4 separate regions of the Homo sapiens genome follow, and all the other regions are linked to region 1. The links come from fine-mapping of genetic effects on gene expression. A gene starts in region 1. Each other region holds a variant in brackets. All regions are shown on one strand. Distances are from middle to middle.

Region 1 (6,221 bases):
CTTTGTGGATCGTTGTAAACATTTCTGTTTATTTTTCATTATAAAGAATTTAAGCGGCTGGGCGCAGTGTCTCACTCCTGTAATCCTAGCATTTTGGGAGGCTGAGGCAGGTGGATTGCTTGAGCTCAGGAGGTTGAGACCAGCCTGGCCAACATGGCAAAACCCCGTCTCTACTAAAAATACAAAAAATTAGCTGGGTGTGGTGGCACGCACCTGTAGTCCCAGCTAATTGGGAGGCCAGCTGAGGCAGGAGAATCACTTGAACCTGGGAGGTGGAGGGTGCAGCGAGCCGAGATTGCACCACTGCACTCCAGCCTGGGTGACAGGGCGAGACTCCGTCTCAAAAAAAAAGAAAAGAATTTAAGCATCCACAAAAGTAGAAACAGAAACATTTAATGAACCTCTACGTGCCCGTTCCCCAGGTTCAACAATGGTTAATTTTTTATTTTTAAGAGACAGGGTCTTTCACTGGAGTGCAGTGGCACCATTACGGCTCACTGCAGCCTCAAACTCCTGGGCTCAAGTGATCCTCCCCACTCAGCCTCCCTAGTAGCTGGGACTACAGGCCCAGCTACCATCTGCCACCATGTCCAGCTACTTTTTAAAAACTTTTTGTAGCGACGAGATCTTGCTTTTTTGCCCAGGCCGGTCTCAAACTCTTGGGCTCAAACAATCTGCCCACCTTGTCCTCCCAAAGTGCTGGGATTACAGGTGTGAACCACCATGCCCAGCCTAAGAATGGTTAATTCATGGCCAATTTTGTTTAATCTCTACTCCATCCACTTTTCTCTTCCATCATATTTTGAAGTGAGTCTAAGATATTGTGTCATTTTATGGCTATTGCAGCGTGCAGGAAGAGGTATGACATTTTGGAAGATGAGTTGATGGGCCGTGCCACATGGGTATTGTGTCTCTGTGTGCCTGTACATACTCTCTTATGTGGAATTGCAATGGCTGATTTGACTCTTCCAAGTTGGGGGTCTTTTAAGGGCAAAGACCACCCTCCAGTGGCCAGGCTGTCTTCTCCTCCCCATGGAGTGCTTGGTATATGGTGCGACCGTCAGTGTGAACAACCTAGTTCCACTGGAAGAAAGAGGCCTGTTATTGGACCCTTTGGGCTATGGCCATCGAGACCACGGGTAGCTTTTCTGCTCAGGTCACGCTCTGATATGTTGTCAAATAAAACACAGGACACTCAGCTGGGTTTCAGTTTCAGATCAACAACAAATATGCCTGTAACATAAGTATGTCCCACACATTGCCCGGGGCATATTTATAGTAATAAATGACGTTATTTTTCTGAAATTCAAATTTAATCAGGCTTTTTTTTTTTTTTTTGAGATGGAGTTTTGCTCTGTTGCCCAGGCTGGAGTGCAGTGGCGTGATCTTGGCTCACTGCAAGCTCGGCCTCTCGGGTTCACGCCATTCTCCTGCCTCAGACTCCCGAGTAGCTGGGACTACAGGCGCCTGCCACCACGCCCAGCTAATTTTTTGTATTTTTAGTAGAGACGGGGTTTCACCGTATTAGCCAGGATGGTCTCGATCTCCAGACGTTGTGATCTGCCCGCCTCGGCCTCCCAAAGTGCTGGGATTATAGGCGTGAGCCACAGCGCCCAGCCCAGGCATCTTGTTTCTATCTATTTATTTATTTTGTTTTGTTTTTGGCTAAATCTAGTCAATCCTATCCTCTGGTCTTTTCACAGAAATCCTGCAGATCAAAGCCTTTGACCTAGGGCAGTGCTTTTCAAAGGGTGGTCCCAGGACAGCAGCATCAGCAACTCCTAGCTCAAAACAAGATCTCAGGCCAGGCGCGGTGGCTCATGCCTATAATCCAGCACTTTGGGAGGCCCACACGAGTGGATCATTTGAGGTCAGGGGTTCGAGGCCAGCCTGGGCAACGTGGTGAAACCCCGTCCCTACTAAAAAAAAAAAAAAAAAAAAAAAAAAACAAAAATTAGCGGGGCTTGGCAGCATGCACCTGTGATCCCAGCTACTCGGGAGGCTGAAGCAGGAGAATCGCTTGAACATAGGAGGCAGAGGCTGCAATCACCCGAGATTGGGCCACGGCACTCCAGCCTGGGCGAAAGAGCGAGACTCCATCTCAAAAAAACAAAAGCAAAAACAAAAAAATCCCAAAATGTCAGCCCCACCCAGAATGACGGAACCAGAGCCTCTGGGGGTGCTGGCATTTTGTGTTTGACCCCCTCCAGTGATTCTTTTGAGGGTCATTGACTGGAGAATGATGCCGATGCCATCACATTACCCGCCCCCAGCCTCTCCCGCAACACACACACAGCACATCCTGCTCTGCTGCGCACCCAGTGGCATGGACCTGGCTGCCAAAGGTGTAGAAGCATAAGTAACATCAGGGGTGTTACAAAGGGCTCTTTCCTTGGGTGTTTGTAGCTTCCCTTAGGGCTGCAGTCACTCGCAGACTGCTGGGCTCTTGGCCTCAGGGCTCTGTTCTGCCCGCCCAGATCTGTTCCTGAGCCTGCAGACGGCTGTGAACCAGAGAATCTATTCTTCAGGCGGGAGTTGCCAGTTGCGGCCAAGGGGGCGGGGCCCGGAGGCGGGAGGGCCACGTGTGCGGGAGGGAAGCAGGAAGTGACTGCGGGAGTGGAGCCGGCGAGAGAGTGGCAGCGGGGGCTGATGGAAGTGCAGTGGGGGCTGGAGAGGGCACCCTAGTGAGTTGGCTTTTCTCTCCTTCGGTGCCTTTGGTTGGGCTCGAGGCCCGGGGTCGGAGGCCATCAGGACAAGAGTGTGGGACTTGGAAGGGCAGCCACCTGGAGCTTGGAAGGGGGTACGCCTGGAGAGAGGAGGGGTTTGGAGGAGAAATTGGAGGCTTTGGCAGGTGTCGGGGCGGGGTGGGAGGGTGAGGGGCGGTGGGAAGGAAGTCCCCGGACCCCGGCTATGTCCCTCTCCAGGGTGATCTGGAAGGCAATGACATGCCTTCCTTTTACAGTCCTAACCCAAATCCTCTTCGTTCGTCCCTTCCTAGGCGGTGTGTGGGGGTACCCGGGATTCCTGGGAGCAGAGGCAGCTACAAATCCAGCTGCTCCCAGGCCCCTCCCACTTGCTCTGGCTGTTAGCTGGACCTCTGGAACTTGACTGGGAATCTGGTTAACTTGCAGCAGGTCTGGGTGGGGCGTGACAGTGTGCATTTCTAACTAATTCCCAGGTTGGGTGGTCCGCGGACCACGCTTTGAGTAGCGAGGCATTAGAGAACTTTTCCACAGTCCTCTCCGCCCAGACCTGAATCCTTCTGCTGGATTCCCCCTCGTGGAGTTAGGGCATGTGTGTGCAGCTCCACTAAGGCCCAGCAGCCCTAGTGCTGTTTCCACTTCTGCAACTTCACCAGCCTCTTGAACTGACTCTTGGAAGCGGAACAACAGGTTTAAAAGGGGGAGAAAGGAAATAAAGAAAACAAACCTGTATCAATCAGCCGGGAATGCCCATGTGCTGCTGTGGCAGGTGTGTACAAGTCTACAGGCTGTTGGCATGTTAAAAGTTGGAACGGTCAGAGAATGATTCTCCCTGCTGCTAACGAATCAGGGTTGATGGAATTAATATCCCCATCGTGAGGAATTCTGAGCCCCATTGTGTAAGCTGTGATGGAGATGCTGTGTCCTAAAGTTGTTACTGGTCTGCCGGTTAGAGAAAACTTCTTGTTCTCTTGGGACTCTGCCAGAAACTTTTTCTTCTCTTGAGACTCTGCAGAAAACTTTCTGTTCTTTTGGGACTCTTCTTTGCTCTTGCCAATCCCACATGGGGCAGGAGAACTCATTTTCTAAGCTCTTGGTATTGTAGAAGTTTTACCAGTTTTATTTATTTATTTATTTTTATTTTTTTTTGAGACAGAGCCTTGCTCTGTCACCCGGACTGGAGTGCAGTGGCGCGATCTCGGCTCACTGCAACCTCCGCCTCCCGGGTTCAAGCGATTACTCCTGCCTCAGCCTCCCGAGTAGCTGGGACTACAGGCACTGGGACTACAGGCACACACCACGACGCCCAAGTAATTTTTGTGTTTTTAGTAGAGATGGGGTTTCACCGTGTTGGCCAGGCTGGTCTCGAACTCCTGACCTCAGGTGATCTGCCCGTCTTGGCCTCCCAAGGTGCTGGGATTACAGGCATGAGCCACTGCGCCTGGCCAAGTTTTACCAGTTTTAATCTTTTGCTTTCCACAGTTTAATGTGCATAAGAATCCCCCATGGAATTCCACAAAATGCAGACCCTGATTCAGAAAGTCTGGGGTGAGACCTGAGTTTCTGCATTCCTAACTAGCTCCCAAGCCGGACCAGTGCTGCTGGTTCTCTGACCACCCTTGTAGCGAGGATTTAAAACAGCAAATAGAGAAGAAACTTCTCCGAGGGGCACTGGGCTTGCATTGCCCGTGATCAATGCTGCTCCTGTTGGGATGGAAAGGATGGTGGCCTCGGTCTTCCCTCTGTGTCCCTTTTTCTTACTCAGGAGGGTGCTCAGATATACATGGGGACAGGCTTAGACGGGTGTTTCCCTATCCCACTAACCACCAGGAACACCCACGAGCTCCCTCTGTTCTGTTCACCAGCCCACAAGATCCACATTGACTTTGGCCTGTTGGCAAATGTAAATTGTTTGCTCTCTTCTGTAGCTGTCAAGAGGCACATTCAAATACAGGAAAGAAAGGTGTTTTTGTTATGCCCTGTCTTGGATGATAAGTACTAAGAGGATGATCCCTTTGTGCTGTTCTTTGTAAATGCTGTTTGAAATTTTGTCCACAGCAACTCGGAATAGATGATTGGTGTAATGGTCCAGATGGCTTGGTTTAAAAACAAAGACCAACCCCTCTTTTTAGGGTGGCTTAGCAAGATGACGGATGTAAAGGGTAGTAGTTTTTTGAAAATGATTTTTTTTTTCTTTAATTGGCGTGGTCACAGTTTTCACAGTTGGTGCAGTTCGTTTAGAGTGCGGGAACTAGAGTCTGATTCCATAGATGCTATTTATCTCAGAGTTTCTGGCACAGGGGCTGAGCCAGGGCTCACCTGGGCTCACCTGGACCTATACCCTTCCTAGGTTTGAGCCTGGGTGTGTTGCTGAGCCGCTTGGCATAAGGGCTGCGTCCACACTCTGCCATGGTTTCCTTCCAGGGTCAATCGAGGCAGCGTCTTCAGCTCTTGATCTGCAGGCTCAGGGCTGCTGGCTCCTCACAGAGCACCGGGAACTGGCAGGGCTGAGCCCAGTGTGGTTGTGTCCAGCCAGCCCTCTGGGTGCTGGCAGACCATCAGGGAGATGAATGAGGCTTTGATATGAGGCCCTGAGCCCAGTGTTTGTGTACCAGAACACAGGGCTTTTCAACAAATGGGTTTCTCTGCCTTGTAACTTTCCACAGGGAGAGATCTGATTGTCATCTCAGATCCAGAATTTTAAGCATGTTAAAGTCTGGAGGAGGTTCTCTGGACTGAAATGAGAGGGAGTGGTACTTCCCTTCCTTTCCTTGGTGGGCGGTGGTGTAACTTCAGCTTCAGCAGCAGGGTGCTGAGTTGACCAGGGGACATTCCATTCCTGGGTCCTTTTGCTTGTCCTTGCTGACTGTCCTGTGCAGGTAAGCTGGCCCTTTTCCATCCAGCACATATTTTTCAGGGGTTACAAAGCCCTATTTTACAGGGGTGCCAAATGTGAAAAAGCACCGTCCCCGTCCTCAAGCAACTAAGGCTGTAAAAGATGGAGGCAAAGCCACACTGAGAGAGGACCAAAGCTGCATGCTAGGACAGGGCTGGGGAAGGCCAGAAAAGCCTTGGTCGTGAGGTTGGCATTATGTGGGCTGCAGAGGGTGCTCCGGGTTCTGATGGCTGGAAATGTGCAAGGAAGGTATTCCAGGAGGGAACTGCATGAACAGGGACTTGGAGGCAGGATTGTCTGGGGCTTGTGGAAGGTGCCATAAATAATTCAGTTGAGCTGGAGTTGGGTGCTCGTGCAGGCATGATGGAGAACGGGATTGGAGAGTCGGGGGTTGGTGGGTATCAAAAGTTGGTTGGTGGAGTTTACCCTTTGGCTGGGCAGGTGCGCTGTTGCAGATGTGATGGGGATTAAGATTGGAAGCGTGTTGACATCACCTGAGCTAGTCACCTGTCTTTGGTGGAGGCTGAGTGCGGATGGTGGGCAAGAGACGGTAGAAGAGGCAGATTATGTGGGGGAGGCTGCATCAGACCCTCCTATGCCCCCTTCTTCTGGAATAAACCACA
Region 2 (6,221 bases), 260 kb after region 1:
TATCATGTAATATGTATGTTTTTGTGTCTGGTTTCTTTCACTTGGCATGATGCTTCCAAGTTTCGTTGATGTTGTAGCATGTATCAGTAAGTCTTTCTTTTTCTGGCCAGATAATACTCTATTCTATGGATACACCGTGTTTTGTTTACTGTTTCATCACTTGATGGACATTTGGATTGTTTTTACTTTTTTGGGTGTTGTAAGTAATGCTGCTATGTGTGTTTATGTCTTTGTATGGACCTGTGTTCTCTTGGGTACATACCTTGGAGTAGAATTGCTGGGTCATATGGAAACCTTTGAACTCTTTGAAGCCAGTTCTTTTTGTTAAGTTCCTTCCCATTCATTCCATCCAGCAGAGTCCTTTGACACAAAGGGATAATCTCTGTCCCACCTACCATGGCACTTGCTTGGGGTGTCTATGAGTCCTGCTTTTTTTTTTTTTTTTTTTTTTGAGCAATATACATTTTTATAGTACATTTTTAAAAAATCTAGTGAATTTTCCTCCAAGTCAATAGACAGGAGAAAAATAAAGTTGTTTTTTGAGCCCTGCTTTCCAACGAGGTGGCAGTTGCTGTGGATTTTGATTTTGTGTGGAATATGGAGGATCTGTTGGAATGCTGAAAAGTCTGCGGACAGCTGCAGGTGGCCAGGGAGGCTGCTGCTGCTGACATTGGTGATGTGAGCCTGGACCTTCAGCTTGCCCTTGTGCAGTCTCCCCGTGCTGCAAAGGGTGGCTTTGGAGGGGCAGCAGTGCGAGACCAGGGCCCCGACTTGCAAGAAAGGAGCTACTAGCCATGAGAAAGAACATGTTGATTTTTCATTTTCCTGGGGTAAAGACTGAGCAGAAAATTCTACTGTTAGGTACAGACCTTTCCAGGAGAAACCGTGATGCAACAGCTTCTGCTTCACATTGCTCTGCTTCCAGAAACTGGAGGGGCCTTCTCAGTAGCCGGCGACTCAGGCTCAGTTAATGAGGAAGCAGAACACCACACAAAGGCATGCATCATTGACCATAATAAAATATACCAATAATGCTAAAGGCTGCCACTTACGGGGGCCTTTCAAGGTTCCAGACGCTGTATAAAGTGCACCACATACATGATTTAGATATTTGCGTCCCTGTTTTACATTTTAGAAACTGAGACCTAGAAAGTTTAAAGATCAAGCCCAAGACCAGGCACGGTGGCTCACACCTGTAATTTCAGCACTTTAGGAGGCCGAAGCAGGTGAATCGCTTGAACCTGGGAGTTCAAGACCAGCCTGGGCAACGTGGGGAAACCCCATCTCTACAAAAAATACAAAAATTAGTGGGGTATGGTGGCGCGTGATTGCAGTCACAGCTACTCGGGAGGCTGAGGCAGGAGAATCGCTTGAGCCTGGGATGTGGAGGCTGCAGAAAACTGAGATCGTGCCGCTGCACTCCAGCCTGGGTAACAGAGCGAGACCCTGTCTCAAAAAAAAAAAAGCCCGAGGCCACACAAGCAATGATGGGTACAGCTTAACTCACACTCTGTCTCCGTGTGTTGTGTCTCACTGGTGAGCTCTGTGTTTCTTTTCTTCCCGTGGATCACACTGTTTTTCAGAGAGAGTTACAGAGAAGTTCAGGAAATGCTTCTTGCTTTTCTTAAGCTTGCCACATTAAATGTTAATGTCTGCAGCACCACGTTGGCGTAGTTCTCACTCCAGATGCATCGGGCTCAGTTCAGCAAGGAGACTTGGGCAGGGAAACCTGGGCAGGAAGCCTCACCGTACACAGGGCCCACCACTGTGGGTGCTCTAGGAGATGTGTAAAATGAATGCCTGTGAGGCCCCTGCACACCTATCACCACCACTGATGCTCCAGGACCCAAGCAGGTGGTCGCCCACAGGCATAGGACAAGCACAACCTTTAGAGCAGAAAGGCCAAGACTTGGATCCTGGAGCCACCAAATGCTTTACTAGGTAGGTAACCTTAGGTGAGATCATGAGAGTCTTAGCTTTCCCAGCTGTAAAATGCAGATAATAGCTACTTGGCAGTTCATTATTGAGACGACAGCAGTAGCAACAAGCAGGGCCACCCACTGTGTTATCTGCTATTCAGAGTGTATCGTTGGGAGGCCGAGGCATGCAGATCACTTGAACTCAGGAGTTCAAGACCAGCCTGGGCAACGTGGCAGAACCCCGTCTCTACAAAAAATACAAAAATTAGCTGGGCGTGGTGGCACATGCCTATAGTCCCAACTACTCAGGAGGCTGAGGCAGGAGAATCACTTGAGCCCAGGAGGTAGAGGCTGCAGTGAGCCGTGCTTGTGCCACTGCACTCCAGCCTGGGTGACAGAGCAAGACCTGTCTCAATAAAAAAATAAAGAGTATTGTGGTTCCTAGAACACAGCAGGACCTGGAAAACATTAATTCCCCTCCACCTCCTCCTCTTCCCCCAAACTCTACCACCCACCTACTTTTGCCTTCAACTTGCTTTGATCCTCAAAAATTGTCTGGTTCTGGTTGTGGAGGTCTTAAATGGGGACGTCACAGATGGCTTTAATTTTCATCTCCAACAGGTTACATTTGAAGATGCTTCTCATTTACTGCAGGAGTTTGAAAACA[T/C]TGTAATATTCTCCTTTAATTATCAGTATCTCAGTGGGAAGCCTGACATTATAATTAGCACAGGCTCCTACATGGGATGACATTTTGCTCAACATATCATGTTCCTGGTGTGCACTGAGGCAGAAGCCGGTAGCACACTTCTAAATGACGCTGTTGGATTTGAGCATGAGAGTTGGCACCAACGCCCAGAGGGCAAAATCACAACTCTGGGAATCCTCCGTGATCCCAAATAAAAGTGGCAGGGAAACTTTTAGACATTCTGTCATCTCCTGCACAGGCGACAGACGCGCAGATGCCTGAGCCCTACTTTCTGGCCTTCAGATCAAGGAAGCTACAGCCAGAGTGAAAGTCTAATGCTGCGCTAGGATTGGGGTTAAAATCAAGACTCATTTCCACGTCGATTGTATTATGCCATCCTCCTACCTATTATGTAAATTAAAGAGAAAACTAAAGCAAGAGAATTTGAATACATTTTTGTATTAGGAAGCAAAGTTTCCAATAACTTCCAGTTGTCTTTCTCCCATGGCCAGGTATTGGCTAGAACATGGTTTAATACAATCTTTTATTTTATTTTATTTTATTTTATTTTATTGTTTTGTTTATGGAGTTGGAGTCTCACTCTGTGGCCCAGGCTGGAGTGCAGTGGCGCAATCTCAGCTCACTGCAACCTCCGCCTCCCAGGTTCAACCTATTCTCCTGCCTTAGCTTCCTCAATAGCTGGAATTACAGGCGTGTGTCACCATGCGCAGGTAATTTTTGTATTTTAGGTAGAGATGGGGTTTCACCATATTGGCCAGGCTGGTCTCAAACTCATGACCTCAGGTGATCCACCCGCCTCAGCTTCCCAAAGTGCTGGGATTATAGGCGTGAGCCACCGTGCCCAGCCTAGTAAGATCTTTTAGACTTGCTGTGTCCAATTCCATAGTCCCTGGCCACCTGTAGTTCTCTAAATTTACATGAGTTAAACTGGAATAAAATGCAAACTTTAGCTCCTTAGCATGACTTAGCCACACATCAAATACTTGTATCTAGTGGCTACTGTGTTGGACAACACAAGATGTAGAACGCTTCCATGATCACAGGAAGTTCTACTGGATGACACTGCACTAGACCCTTAGCAAAAAAAAGTAACTTCACAAATTGTTTGTTGTGTAGTGCCTACCCAAGCTTGCCTTGGGAGGAGTTCCATTTCTGGAAGACAGTGTAAGAGAGCTGTTCTCAGTCATGGGGTATGTCCTACATATATTGTGAATAAAATAATTTAAATGTCAGCCTTTTCACATTGTTTCTGATAAATTCAGGATGCTGCAGAGTCATCCTGTGATACCATTCTCTTGCTCCTGTTGGTTCTGAGTTTTTTTCTTATTTCCTGAGTTGGGGACTGAAGTGGGTTGCGAGTTGTGCCGGGACTTGTGTAGCAGGCTCGAGAGCATCATGATGTCTGATGTCGGGGGATGGAAGGAGCTGCACAAGGGCTGAAATAGTAGCTCATCATCTTGTCCTCTGGTGTTATGTGTTATCTGCCAGTAGACAACCTCTCCTCACCCCAGCCCAAGCCAACATCATTGGTCTATGTCAGCTTAGCCCCTCTCACAGAACAGCCTCCTGTGACTTAACTCAGGTTTGAAAGAAAGGATGTTAACCGTCAGATGAAAATCACTGGAGTCTTTATTGTCAGCTTTCTGCTAGAGCCATTGTCCTGTTCATCCCCCAATGCCTCTAGATAAAACTTTTAGAATACACTGCCTGGAAAAGCTTTGCCTCCCTGTGGGAATGACAGACATTGATCGTGTAGACCTTTTTTTATTCTTTGGCTGCTAGGAAGCACAGCACTTCATTTGCTGCTTTGTGATAAGGATAAAGTGCATTCTTAAGGTCTGAATATCTGAATATCTGAATTCTTCTTCCATGTTATAACCTATTGTTGTACTGCACTTTAATCCATTTCAAAAGAGGACGGTTATTAATAATCGCTACAAGTGATTTCATTCCTGTGTTGCCAGTTTTCTTCATTTTGTTTCCTGGCCACAGACTATATTTCTAAACCAGATGCAGTGCCTGAAAAGTATTTTTATTTGATTATAATGGAGACTGGAGACCAGGCAAGAGGGAATAAAGTAATCTATTTGTAGCTTGACAATGGTCTTGATTAAGGTCTTGATTGACAAGGGCTTGATTTATTTTTGCTTCACTGTAAAGAAAATTGTAGCTTTTCTAAGATTTTTGTTTCTTGAAATACCTGGCTACTTTGCAAGCAGGATGGACCACCAAGGAGCCATCTCATCTGCTGATGAGTCTCCCTCCTCTGTTGAGGTGGCCCCATTTTTCCCAAAGCCCCAGCAAATAACAGGTTTAATTAATTGATCACGTTTCAGTTGCATACCTTATAATGGTCCCAGCTTACTCATATTCATATATGCGAATTTTAGTGCACATTAATTATGTATTTAATAAGTCCCTGTTTGTTTTGTCTCCATTCCCTTGATAGCTGTTATGGTGTGGAGTTGAAAATAATTAAAATGTTTCTAGTTTTCTGCAAATAACCATTAACCAAGGTTGGATTCTGAAATCAAAATTCCATTTTCTTTTTCTTTCTCTGGTTAAATACAGTGGGTGAAATGACACCTAAATGTACTTCTAGGTCTATTCCTTGCTCTGTTGTTTGTCCCACTTTTCAGTGTGGTAATTGCCAGCTGAGTTCTCCATTTGGCATAGATGTGTCATGACTTGACTTAAACAAAATGTATTACTTTTGGCTGTCATCTTCTCCTTGACACGGAGATAAATTCAGAGGCGATGAGCTCAGCATGGCGGTTTGGGAGAGGATAGAAAAAAATAGGTTGTTCTCCACAGAATATTCGAGGGGGTAGAAGTCTGCAAAATCAGTATGTGTGTGAAGCCCCTAGGGGGCTCGTGACGAATCCAAGCTCCCAATAACACCTAGACTTCCAAGCCATTTCAGACCACCATTTCTTCAGTGGTTCAGCTCTTTGGAGAATAGACAAGTGTATGGCTGCATGTTTTGGGTATTACCTGCCCTAAGGGACAGCACCACATCCTCATTCACGGCTCATCCTAATTGTTGCTTTGTCTACTAATGCAGTAGTTAGTAGCCACAGGGATTATACGCTCGATCCCATTTCATTTTGTCTTATATCTTGTACCAAGGTTTGTCATATGCCAACATCTTGCAGTTTACTAGAGCATGGTAACTTCCCCTATTCTCCAACCTCCTTCTCCTCCTCTTCTTCCTACTACTACTATTACTACTTATTTTTCATAGTTCTATCGGCGTCTTTAAGAATGGCAATTAATCTTTGCAGCCCATCTGCGTAACTTAAGCTCTACTCTCAGCCATGGAGACTGTTGCTTCCACAGCTTCAGCAACACAGAGATGGTAAATGGAAATCAAATGAGGGCTCAAAAATGAATTCGGATGCTTCTTCTTAATAATTCTCTTTAAGAGAGAATGAACAAGGAGAAGAATCTCAAACTGATCTGTTTTGTTGATGGGCTACTGAAAAAATTTAATTAGAAATGAACTCAAAGCTCATGGATGAAATAAAGTTGGGAAATTGCATTTTTACGATAGCAATTTAGACCATCCACATTTTCCAGAATCAATGGTAAGTAAG
Region 3 (6,221 bases), 61 kb after region 1:
GTCTCTCAAGTGATGCTGACAGCGATGTTATGTTTTTTCATCGGAGTGCAGGGTGGGGAGGATTTAGAGGGTGAGATGAGTGGGCTTACTTGGGCCATGTGGTTTTAGAGTTGTTGAAGGTGGGACCGTATGGGAGAACCAGAGAAGCTGCTGCACAGGTCAGGTTTAAAAAGAAGAATTGGGCCAGTAGCAGTGGCTCACGCCTTTAATCCCAGCACTTTGGGAGGCCAAGGTAGGCAGATCACTTGAGGTCAGAAGTTCGAGACCAGCCTGGCCAACACGGCAAAACCCTGTCTCTACTAAAAATACAAAATTAGCCAGGTGTGGTGGCAAGTACCTGCAATCCCAGCTACTTGGGAGGCTAAGGCAGGAGAATTGCTTGAACCTGGGAGGCAGAGGTTGCAGTGAACGGAGATTGCACCACTGCACTCCAGCCTGGGTGACAGAGACTCTGTTTCAAAAAATGCAAAGAAGAACGGGCACCTTTCCATCTCTGTGTCTTGTTGCAGGTCCTCTTCGATGGGGAGTTTACCATGCAGGGCAGCTACTGAGGGCTGTTGAATTCTAAAGCTAGTAAGACAAAGTCTGGAAAAGGGGTGGATTAGGCTGTAGCAGGGAGGGGGAGCCCTCACATTTCCTTTGATGGTCTTTATTGACAGCCCGGCTCATGGAGTTGAACGGATCAGCCTCAGCTCCCATCCTGTTGAGCAGAGGCATTTTCATTCTTAGAGTTTTGGAGGCTTTTGCAGGTTTCCATGGGTGGCACTAAGACTTTTGCTGGGAGAATTTGGCCCAGAGCAAGTGACTGTGCATGTTTGACAGCTGGAAGAAGGGAATTTATGGATTTATGCTTGGATTTGTTCTTTATTGTTGCTGTTGTAATACCTGCTTCTGTCACTCTGAGTGTTATTTTGAAGATGGGTGATGCAGATGATTTTTTAAGGCAAGGCATAATTAAGTAATTTTTAGAAACCCATTCAACATTTTCTGTGTCGGCGATGACTGCCGTATAGTTACGATGGGTGGTGGGTGTACTCTAGCCAAAAGATGTCATAGCATCTGTAAGAGTAAACAGCCATGGATGAGTGTTTAGTTTGGTCAGTGCTGGAGAGCTTCTTATTTTTAAGAGGCAGAGTCTCGCTATGTTGCCCAGGCTGGCCTTGAACTCCTGGGCTCAAGGCTCCCCAGTAGCTAGGACTACAGTCATGCACCACTGCGCCAGCTCATCTCCAGCAACTATAGTCATGCACCACTGTGCCAGCTCATCTGCTGGAGAACCTTTTATTGAATTGACTTTGCTGAGATTTGAGACTAGCCTAATTTTTTTTCTTCTCCTTCATGTTTCTACCGTCATTGAGTTGGTTATGGTCCTGCTTGGTCATTTCCCTGGATCTGCTACTTACTGCCTATGGCAGAGGTCCCCAATCCCCGGGCCATGGACCAGTGCTGATCCATGGCCTGTTAGGAACCAGGCCGCACAGCAGGTGAGCAGCGGACAAGTGAGTGAGGATTACCGCGGGAGCTCCGCCTCCTGTCAGACCAGTGGCGACATTAGATTCTCATAGGAACGTGAACCCTATTGTGAACTGTACATGCCACGGATCTAGGTTGTGAGCTCCTTATGAGACTCTAATGCCCGATGATCTGAGGTGGAACTGTTTCATCCCAAAACCACTGCCTGGTCCGTGGAAAGATGGTCTTCCATGAAACTGGCCCCTGGTGCCCAAAGGATTGGGGACCGCTGGCCTGTAGGACCATGAGCAAATTACCTTATTATTTCAAGATCCAATTTCTTTATCTACAAATCGCAATAGAAAACATCATCTGCCTCTGGGGTGGTTGTGATGAAAAGATAAGATATCAAATGTAAATCTTGGCCCTTGGAAATACCAAGTGATCAATAAATATTAGTTCCCTTCGTCCTTTTTAGAGATAATTGATGAGACCAATATGACGTTGACTTGCTGGTTATCTTCAGATATTTCAGAGGCTGTCACATATCACACAGGAGGGACACAGTTTTTGGTGTTCTAGGGAGCAAAACCACAGCTAAAAGGTAAAAGTGGAAAGGAGACAGATTTCAGCTCAACATAAGAAAGAACTTTGTAATAATTAGACCTGTGTTACAATACAGTGGAACTCGTGAAGTAGTGAGCAATTTGTCTTGGAAGAATTTAATTAAAATAGGATTTTTTGGGCTGGGCATGGTGGCTCACACCTTTAATCCCAGCACTTTGGGAGGCCGAGGTGGGTGGGTCACCTGAGTTCAAGAGTTTGAGACCAGCCTGGCCAATATGGCAAAATCCCATCTCTAAAAAATACAGAAAAATTAGCTGGCTGTGGTGGCACACACCCATAATCCCAGCTACTCAGGAGGCTGAGGCAGGAAAATCACTTGAACCCGGGAGGTGGAGGTTGCAGTGAGCCAAGATTGTGCCACTGCACTCCAGCCTGGGTGACAGAGAAAGTCTCCATCTCAGAAAAAAAAAAAAAAAGAATAGGAATTCGCAACAGCATTCTCATTGACATTTGGGGCCAGATAATTCTTTGTTGTCAGGGGTGTGCTGTGCATTGTAGGTTGTTTACCAGCATGCTTGGCCTCACTCATTAGATGCCAGTAGCAACCTCCCCCTACGCTCCTCCCAGTGTGACAGCTAAAAATGTCTCTAGTCATTGCCAAATGTCCTGTGGAGG[G/T]CAAAACCATTGCTGGTTGAGAACCACTGAATTATAGGCTAGATGATGGCGAACTGGACTGCATCCTCCCAAGGTCAACTCTATCCTACCCAAAATTGAGTTCTTGCAATAGTAAGCTCCGGGAATTCTGGGGATGGCTTTTTGGTTTCTGATAGTACCTCCCAACCTGGGACGAAAGACTGAACTCATGTGAAATTGTAGGGGTCAATCTGGGCCACAGAGAGCAACTGAGGTCCTGCCTGGAAAGCCTTCTGCAGTTGCTTTAACGTTTATCTCTCGTTGTGGTTTTTGTAGGTCATGTTGGCAGCTTCCTATTGGTCTCTTCTGGCCCCAGCAGTTGAGATGGCCACGTCCTCTGGGGGCTTCGGTGCCTTTGCCTTCTTCCCTGTGGCTGTTGGCTTCACCCTTGGAGCGGCTTTTGTCTACTTGGCTGACCTCCTGATGCCTCACTTGGTGAGTACCACTCTACTTTTAGCTGTCGTATCGGGATACAACCAGCTCTGTGCAATGAATTTATTTCTGATCAAACCTGACATACCTGTTAATGTCTCTGTTAAGTAGCCAGTGGTATTTAAACAGAGAACAAGGCATTAGAGGAACTGATCGGTGATTTCTTTCTTAAAGTAATGTCTTGGTAATTACCCCCTTATTTACATTTTAGTAAGTTCGGATTTTGAATGTCACATTTCATTAAAAATATAGAGTACAGCTGATGTGCTGGGTGGCACTGTATATATATGAGAGGACCTAGAACGATCACTGTGGTGCTGGGTTTTATTGAGAGTATGACATCATCAGGGAGATGATACTCCCGCCCCACCCCCACAATCTGTAGCATTAGGCCTTTGACCATGGATCACATTATGAGGGCTGACAGGAGGGTGAGGCAGGGCTCTGTGCAGCAGGGGTCTGGGCTGGAGCTCACACCTGCCATTTACTGATTGTATATCCCTGAGCTCTAGTTTTCCATCCTTTAATTTGAGGATAACTCCCCCGAAGGACTGTACAGTAAAATTTTAAAAATGTAAAAATGCACTGGAATTGGGGATAAGCCAGAGATTTCAGGCTTTTTTACTGACATATGGCAGGAGAGCTGGATTTGGGAATGAGCATGTATGTGCTTACAGGGAAGCACCGTGCAAACCGCAGCCTGGCATGTGGCTGTGATCACCGAGCCAAGAGAGCTGGGGCCAGGTCATGCGATGGGAACCGCAAGCCATTGGCTAAAGCCCTGTCATCTGCATGCACCACTGTCAGTAGAGGAAAGGGGTCCAAGATCATAACAGCATGAGACAGCCTTACCAGACACTGGGCCCGACAAGTTCTAGAGATGGCAGAAGCACCCCTGAACTGGTGCCAGAGTTCCCTGCTCCCCTAGAAAGGGAAGTGGTGCAGGGAGAACTCTCTGGAGAGAAATGGGTCAAAGTCCATTTCTCCTGCTGGATCACGGTGAGACAGGATTAAGTCAGACTCACTGGAGTCAGTGGTCATGTACCCCGGGAGGTAGGTAGGTTGAAGTTCTCTTCCCTGCCTTCCTGCTTTCTTTTTTCCTTAACTTCCCAAGTGGAGAAAGAGAAGGAATGATGGGTGATTCTGTAACTATAACGATTCCCAGGAACTATGCCTCTAGGTCCTGGGCTAATGTAAAACAGATTCCTTGTGTTACAGAAGAACTGTCCTTTGGATCAGACAGCTGAATGTGATGTTGGACGGCTGTGATACTGTCTTAAAGCAGAGGTCCCCAACCCCCCAGACCAAGGACCGCTACTGGTCAATGGCTTGTTAGGAGCTGGGCCACATAGCAGGAGGTGGGCAGCCAGCTGCCAAGTGAGCTTTATCTTCTGAGCTCCGCCTCCTGTCAGATCAGCCGTGGCATTAGATTCTCAATGGAGCACAAACCCTGCTGCGAGCTGCGCATGTGAGGGATCCAGGCTGCGTGCTCCTTAAGAGAATCTAACTAATGCCTGATGATCTGAGGTGGAACAGTTTCATCCCCAACCCCCTACCCCGGCCCCTGTCCATGGAAAAACTGTCTTCCACAAAACCAGTCCTTGGTGCCAAAAAGGTTGGGGACCACTGTCTTAAAGACCATGTGTCATTTTTTGTTGTTAAAAGATTGAGTGACATGGCTGGGCACAGTGGTTCATGCCTGTAATTCCAACACTTTGGGAGTCTGAGGCGGGCAGATCACTTGAGGCCAGGAGTTAGAGACCAGCCTGGGTAACGTGGAGAAACCCCATCTTTACTAAAAATACAAAAATTAGCTGGGTGTGGTGGTGCGCACCTGTAATCCCAGCTACTCAGGAGGCTGAGGCATGAGAATCGCTTGAACCTGGGAGGTGGAGGTTGCAGTGAGCCGAGATGGTGCCACTGCACTCCTGCCTAGGTAACAGAGCAAGACCCTGTCTCAAAAAAAAAAAAAGATTGAGTGGCCGTGTCTGTCTCCGTCCCCTGGACATGTGGCTTCCTTGCTGCCGACTATGTGTGGTAGTGGCGTCCAGTGGCCCTCAATGCAGGCTGCCATATTCTGATCTCAAGGCCACCCTGGTTTTGTGTGAACTTGTTGTTGGAGTGTATTCTGCTTGCCCTGACAGGTGACCAGTGGCTTCAATCCCTGAGCAGCAGGCAGAGATCTGGCTCAGTGGCTCTGCATGGCTCCTGCTGGATCCCATTCTACTCTTCTCTCCTGCACCCAACTGGGCTTCCAAGATAGTCTCTTGGAAAGGACTCTGCAATCCTTGTGGGTCTTACTATGTTACTGGGGAGTAGGGGTGGTGGGGCGGTATCAGATGTATTTGGTCAGCTGTCTGAATGTAGGGATTTTCTCTGGGCGGTGTAAACAGTCATTGGCTAATTTGCACTATGCAGCAGTAATTTTTTTTTGTGTGTGTGTGACGGCGTCTCACTCTGTCACCCAGGCTGGAGTGCAATGGCGTGATCTTGGCTCACCGCAACCTCCACCTCCTGGGTTCAAGTGATTCTCCTGCCTCAGCCTCCTGAGTAGCTGGGATTACAGGCACCTGCTGCCATGCCTGGCTAATTTTTGTATTTTTAGTTGAGATGGGGTTTCACCATGTTGGCCAGGCTGGTCTTGAACTCCTGACCTCAAGTGATCCTCCCACCTTAGCCTCCCAAAGTGCTGGGATTATAGACATGAGCCACCGTGCCCGGCTGCAGCAGTGTTTTTTTTTTTTTTTTTAAACCTTTTGGTTCATATTTGTTCTAATATATGCTTTGAATATGGAGGAGATCCCAGAGGGAAGCCCTGGATAGAATCAGTAATGGTTTGGGAGCAGCTGGTGAATGTCTGGGGAGGGATTGCAGCAGCTCAGAAACAGACATCATCACCACAAATGCCCAGAACCTCACTACTTGGCAGAAAGGTCAGCCTGACAGTAAACATCTGTTCTAGGAGATTTAAAAAGAAATGAATTCTTGCTGTCGATGTGAGAGGGGGAATTTGTCTTAGAAGGTCTCATACATGGATGAGAATTACTTATGATTGCTACAGTCAGTGAATACAAATG
Region 4 (6,221 bases), 31 kb after region 1:
TTCTTTGGAAACCTCTGTCAATTTCTGAGGCGCTGGTCTTCTTGTAGAGAAATCAACCAAGACAGCCCTGGAGCTAAATGAGTTAGTTCTCCAGGAGTGTGGAAAAATTAGATACCTGTTAAATGCATAAACAAGGGGAAACCAGATTAGTATTGTATTTAAGATGGAGGAAGGGACACACGGTCATTGCCTGTGCATAAACTTTAAACAGATTACAGACGTGAATTTGCTGAACACTTTGTAATTATGCATGAAGATTTCTGTGTGGGGGAGAGTATCCATGGGCTGATGGCAGCGAACACTTGCATCTTATGGGCTCAGGAGCCCCAAATATTATTATGTGACATTGGTTTATTGCTTTATACTTTTTGAAGCACTTTCTCATCCGTTACCTCATCTGACCCTTGCAATAATCTTGTGGCCATAGGTTTTATTTTTAATTTTAATTTTAATTTTTTTTTTGAGATGAGCCTTGCTCTGTTACCCAGGCTGGAGTGCAGTGACACGATCTCGGCTCATTGCAACCTCTGCCTCCCGGGTTCAAGTGATTCTCCTGCCTCAGCCTTTAGAGTAGCTGGGATTACAGGCACGCGCCACTGCACCTGGCCTTGAAAAGCTTCTTTTACCCTCTGAAAATACATTTTGACACAATTCGTTAAAGTCTTGCAGCATTTAATTATATTAGAGTTTATAAGAGTGAAAGATACATGAGGTTCTATTAGCAGCGTAGGCCTTCCAGTAATTATTTCATAAGGGGTCAATCTGTATATCCCAGTGAGAATGGATCTGATTGCCATTAGTGCTAACGGTAGTACCTTTGGCCAAGTCAATCCAATTGATTCAGTTACCTTCGTCAAATTCATTTTTAAAAATGCCTTTTGTCATTTTTATCTTTCCAAAAGACTGAGGGTGATAGAGACAATGCTAGTACCTTGTGCTTCTAACATTTTAACTCTTTTATAATTTGTCCAAATGGATTCCTGTGTCACTAGAGATTTTGACAGGGATGTCTCCTCAAGCAGGGGCCCCCAACCCCCAGCAGGCCCCCAAGACTTACTGGTCTGTGGCCTGTTAGGAACTGGGCCACACAGCAGGAGGTGAGTGGCGGGTGAGTGAGCAAAGCTTCATCTGTATTTGCAGCCACTCTCCATTGCTCTCATTACCTCCTGAACTCCTCCTGTCAGATCAGCAGCAGAATTAGATTCTCACAGGAGCACAACTCCTATGGTGAACTGCACGTGCAAGGGATCTAGGTTACGGTCTCCTTATGAGACTCTAACGCCTGATGATTTGAGGTGGAACAGTGTCATCCCAAAACCATCCCCCACCCCCAATCCGTGGAAAAACTGTCTTCCACGAAACCAGTCCCTGGTGCCAAAAAGGTTGGAGACCACTGCCATAAAGGAAATAAATTTTGTAATAACTTCCTTGCTACTGTCATAGCATTAGCTTTTCTACATGGAAAGTTTCTATCCAACCAGGAAACATGCAAACTGTTGCAAGACATACTGATATCCTATTGAAGGTGGCAATTTAATGAAATCCCTCTGTAGATGTTCAAATGGCCTATCAGGTAGCAGAAGTGTATCACCTAAAGTTTTTTTTTTTTTTTTTGAGACAAGCTCTGGCACTATCACCCAGGCTAGAGTGCAGTGGTGCAATCTTAGCTCACTGTAACCTCCTCTGCCTCCCAAGTGGAAGCCATCCTCCTACCTCTGCCTCCCAAGTAGCTGGGACTACAGGCATGCATCACTACACCCAATTTTTGTATTTTTTTTTATAGAGATGGGGTTTTGCTATGTTGCCCAGGGTGGTCTCGAACTTGTGAGCTCATGTGATCTGCCTGCCTAAGCCTCCCAAAGTGCTGGGATTACAGGTATGAACTACTGCGCCCGGCCTCATCTGAAGTTTTGATTGTCTTTCCAGGATTATGAGTTTGACAAACTAAGCACTCACTGGTTACAAACCATCCTAGTAATTCTAGAACAGTCGCCACACCATTATTTTTCCATAATTTGTTTCATTTTGTCTGTGGTATGAAGAGTCATGGAACAGAGGATTTTTTTTGTTTTGTTTTGAGGCAGGGTTTCAGTCTGTCACCCAGGCTGGAGTGCAGTGACGTGATCACACGAGGTCACTGCAGCATTGACCTCTTGGTCTCAAGTGATCCTCCCACCTTAGCCCCCTGAGTAGCTGGGACCACAGGCTTGGGCCACTACACCCGGCTAATTTTCGTGTTTTTTTGTAGAGATGGGGTTTCACCATGTTGCCTAGGCTAGTCTTGAACTCCTGAGCAGAAGCAATTCACTCGCCTTGGCCTCCCAAAGTGCTGAGATTGTAGGCATGAGCCACTTGCCCAGCCTGCACAGAACTTTTAATAATGGAAGCTTTAAGGACTCAGAAAAGACCAAGTAGTTGTCTAAGCCCTCTATGAGTCTACGCTTAATGTTGAATTTACATCCTTTCAAGTACAAGTTTTATTTCTCCAATTAAGATGCATAACCCTGTCCAATGAATAGGTCATCATAGGTGATTTGACTTGGATAAATCTTAGGGAGTTCATTCAGCTTCTATATCTTAACAATTTCACAATCAACTGACTTAGCATGAAAATCTGACTTAGCATTTAAGTAATTCTTGTTCTTTTGATGGTGGGTTAACAGTTTTATGAACCAGTGAGTTTCTTC[A/G]TACGAGTTCTGAGAATTTTTTTTTCCTTGAGACAGAGTCTTGCCCTGTTGCCCAAGCTGGAGTGCAGTGGTGCAATCTCAGCTCACTGCAACCTCTGCCTTCTGGGTTGAAACGGTTCTCTGGCCTCAGTCTCCTGAGTAGCTGGGACTACAGGTACCTGCTACCACTCCCGGCTAATTTTTGTATTTTCAGTAGAGACGGGGTTTCACCATGTTGGCCAGGTTGGTCTCGAACTCCTGACCTTGGGATCTGCCTGCCTTGGCCTCCCAAAGTGCTGGGATTACAGGCATGAGCCACCACGCTCGGTGAGTTCTGAGAATTCTTACCCAGTTTAATGATACGATCTTAAAGTAATCACAAACCTGTACTTGTCAGAATCTTTTCCGTGAGCCTCCTTGAAGACAAAACTATATAGGCTTATAGTTGCTTAGGAAAGTACCGAGCAAACAACCGTCTGTGAGTGACAGGACTTAAAATGTCCATGGTTAAAGAGCTGTTGAAATTTCATTCAATAATGACACAATTGACAAGGAAATTTAGTTGTTTCTGTGGAATACAACCATTTAACATAATAACTGAAATTATGGCTGATCACGTATCAAATTTCTAAAAATTGTAAACAATTTTCTAGAACACATATGAGTAAAATTCAAAGAAGGTTCAGCATTACTTATTATTTGACAGTACTTCCCATATAATTTAGTATACTAAATAAGCCTAATTCGTATAATATCTCCCCTTTACAAGGTGAGAGATGTATCCTTTGAGGCTTTCTCAGGGCCCAGCAAGAGAATCCCAAAGTTAATTCTTGGTCAGAAAGACTAAATTTAGAGTTTGATTTTGGTTTAAATATCACCAAGGTTTAAAACATTTCATCAAAATGGGATCACAAGTAACTATGAAATAATAGTCATTAATTTAACCAGAGTGATAAAGACTTCAAAGGTGAATATAAAAAGCAACATATTTGGAGGAAAAACCTTAGCTCTTTAATAGTTTTCTATAGTTATCAAAAACCTGATAAAGACAACGTGAAGGACAAAAAGTTATTTTGGTAGAACGCAGTCTTCATTTCCTTTGCCAGTTTCCTAAAAGGTAAAGAAACCCCCCAACTTTTTTTTTTTTACCTTGTTTTCTTTTTTTTTCTTTTTTCTTTCTTTTTTTTTTTTTTTTTTTTGAGATGGAGTTTCATTCTTGTTGCCCAGGCTGGAGTGCAGTGGCGTGATCTCGGCTCACTGCAACTTCTGCCTCCCGGCTTCAGGCGAATTCTCCTGCCTTAGCCTCCCAGGTAGCTGGGATTACAGGCACCCACCACCATGCTTGGCCGATTTTTGTATTTTTAGTACAGACAGGTTTCACCATGTTGGCCAGGCTGGTCTTGAACTCCTGACCTCAGGTGATCCACCTGCCTCAGCCTCCCAAAGTGCTGGGATTACAGGGGTGAGTCACCACGCCCTGCTGATCACAATAAAATTTCTTTCACATGATTCACCGTCCACAAACCTCCTACAACCTTCTTATATTCCATCAGTTTTTTATTTATCCTATCTATACCTTCCCTCTTTCTCATTTTGGGGCAACCTGTCATTCTACGTTAGGGTGAAAATTACTCTTTTTTTCCTTAACAAAGACACATATTTCATACCTCATAGCTTCACTTAACAAAAACATATCTTTTTTTTCCTTGCATATGGAGTTGTTTCCCATATTATTTCCAGTTTTTTTTTTTTTTTGGAGACAGTTTCAGTCTTGTCGCCCAGGCTGGAGTGCAATGGCGCGATCTCGGCTTACTGTAACCTCAGCTTCCCAGGTTCAAGTGATTCTCCTGTCTCAGCCTCCTGAGGTGGCAGCCGCCCCCATGCCCGGCTAATTTTTGTATTTTTTGTGGAGACAGGGGTTCACCGTGTTGGTCAGGCTGGTCTCGAACTCCTGACCTCAGGTGATCTGCCTGCCTCAGCCTCCCCAAAGTGCTGGGATTACAGGCGTGAGCCACTATGCCTGGGCTTATTTCCAGTTTTCACTAGCTTATATTGATTAGAATTTTAAACTGTTACTAACCTCAATTTCTAGTGAAAACATAAGAAGTAAAACAATTTTAAACTGTTATATACTAACATTTCATGAATATACATTTGTAATTTCTAGAAATATGTGCTTCCTCCTAGAACAATGTTTTCATGTTTATGAACAAACCCAAATATATTCAGCTTCTCTATATTGTACAAAACCAAGATGCCAAAGTATTTATACTTGAAACTTATGTTTAGCAGTTAATGTTCTAGTATTTTAACTAAGAAATGACTCAGACATTTTATAAATATCTATTACTTTAAAATTCCAAATTGCTGCAAAAGATTTTTGAAACAATGACAAATTCATTTATAAACTTTTATGCTGTCCATATTCACCTAATTTATTCTTTTTTTTTTAACAGTTATTATTTAATTGCTCACTAAACAAAACTAGCCATTGAAAGCATTCAGGGAATGCCACCCCAAAATGTGTTGCTTTGGTAGTCACATTTTTGGTATATTAATTACTTTGAGTTGAAGGCAAAACACAGGGCAAGGCCTCCTGAGTTCTCTTTCATCTGCCAAAAGACAGATCCTACAAAAGGAACTCAACTGCGTCAGTCTTCTGAAGATTAACCCTTTTTTATTTTTTTGAGACAGAGTTTCGCTCTGTCAGCCAGGCTGGAGTGCAGTGGTGCGATCTCGACTCACTGCAACCTCCACCTCCCAGGTTCAAGCAATTCTCTTGCCTCTTTCTCCCTAGGAGCTGGTATTACAGGTGCCTGCTACCATGCCTGGCTAATTGTTGTATTTTTAGTAGAGAGGGGGTTTCGCCATGTTGGCCAGGCTGGTCTCAAACTCCTGACCTCAGGTGATCTGCCCGTCTGGGCCTGCAAAAGTGCTGGGGTTACATATGTCAGCCACTGCACCCGGCCAAGATTAACTCCTATCACAGGAGACGAGATCAGAAGGCCACCCCAGCTGGCCCATCATCCATTCTTCCAAGGACCTATCTATCTTTTCCGCATTTACTCTGCGGATATTTTCTTTATCCCCCGACTGTTTTCATTCTAGCAAGGGGGTTAAATCAGAGGACACTTCGATTACTCATTATTGCCCCCAGGGATTGTCAGCTAGCCTGATAACCAGATTTCAGGCCAAAATAGTATTATTTGCCAAGACAAACAAACACGCAAGCCTGGTGAAGACAAAATGGTGAAAGGCAAGGCCTGTGAAACAAAGTTAAGTCTTGACCTTCTCCATTTTGAAAGTTTCTAGTGATTTAGGGTGCAAAGAGGGACACACCCCACAAATGGAGACTTTTCCCACAGAAGTAAATTTCTTTTACAAAAAAAAAAAAAAAAAAGAGTCTAAAACGAAATAACTAAAATAACTAAAGATAGGCAGCTTCCCAAGCCAGCCTGTGTTTTCTTTTTTTGGAGATAGAGTCTTGCTCTGTCCCCCAGGCTGGAGTGCAGTGGCACGATCTTGGCTCACTGCAACCTCCATCTCTGGGGTTCA

Direction of the effects. Alleles are on the strand shown, and positions count from the first base shown. SD is a standard deviation of normalised expression in the study named. Not every link is listed here.
For the expression in cerebellar hemisphere of the gene that starts at base 2,607 in region 1, allele G in region 3 goes with a higher level than allele T (moderate effect, 0.41 SD a copy in GTEx).

The links.
Region 2: its variant is fine-mapped to the expression of SLC39A11 in whole blood (TOPMed, PIP 0.98).
Region 3: its variant is fine-mapped to the expression of SLC39A11 in cerebellar hemisphere (GTEx, PIP above 0.99).
Region 4: its variant is fine-mapped to the expression of SLC39A11 in whole blood (TOPMed, PIP above 0.99).

Annotation. Positions count from the first base shown.
Region 1 is chr17:73,089,074-73,095,294 of GRCh38, reverse strand. SLC39A11 (solute carrier family 39 member 11) reads left to right here and starts at 2,607. Exons shown (of 10, transcript NM_139177.4): 1 at 2,607-2,684. RefSeq lists a silencer at 3,447-3,678 and enhancers at 4,649-5,149, 5,150-5,650.
Region 2 is chr17:72,831,591-72,837,811 of GRCh38, reverse strand. All of the region lies in intron 6 of SLC39A11 (solute carrier family 39 member 11), which reads left to right. Among named protein-coding and RNA genes, the nearest start is that of LINC00511, 190 kb to the right of the region's middle. The variant T/C (reference allele first, on the strand shown) is at 2,587.
Region 3 is chr17:73,028,482-73,034,702 of GRCh38, reverse strand. SLC39A11 (solute carrier family 39 member 11) reads left to right here. Exons shown (of 10, transcript NM_139177.4): 4 at 2,989-3,147. Among named protein-coding and RNA genes, the nearest start is that of SLC39A11, 61 kb to the left of the region's middle. The variant G/T (reference allele first, on the strand shown) is at 2,695.
Region 4 is chr17:73,057,855-73,064,075 of GRCh38, reverse strand. All of the region lies in intron 3 of SLC39A11 (solute carrier family 39 member 11), which reads left to right. Among named protein-coding and RNA genes, the nearest start is that of SLC39A11, 32 kb to the left of the region's middle. The variant A/G (reference allele first, on the strand shown) is at 2,688.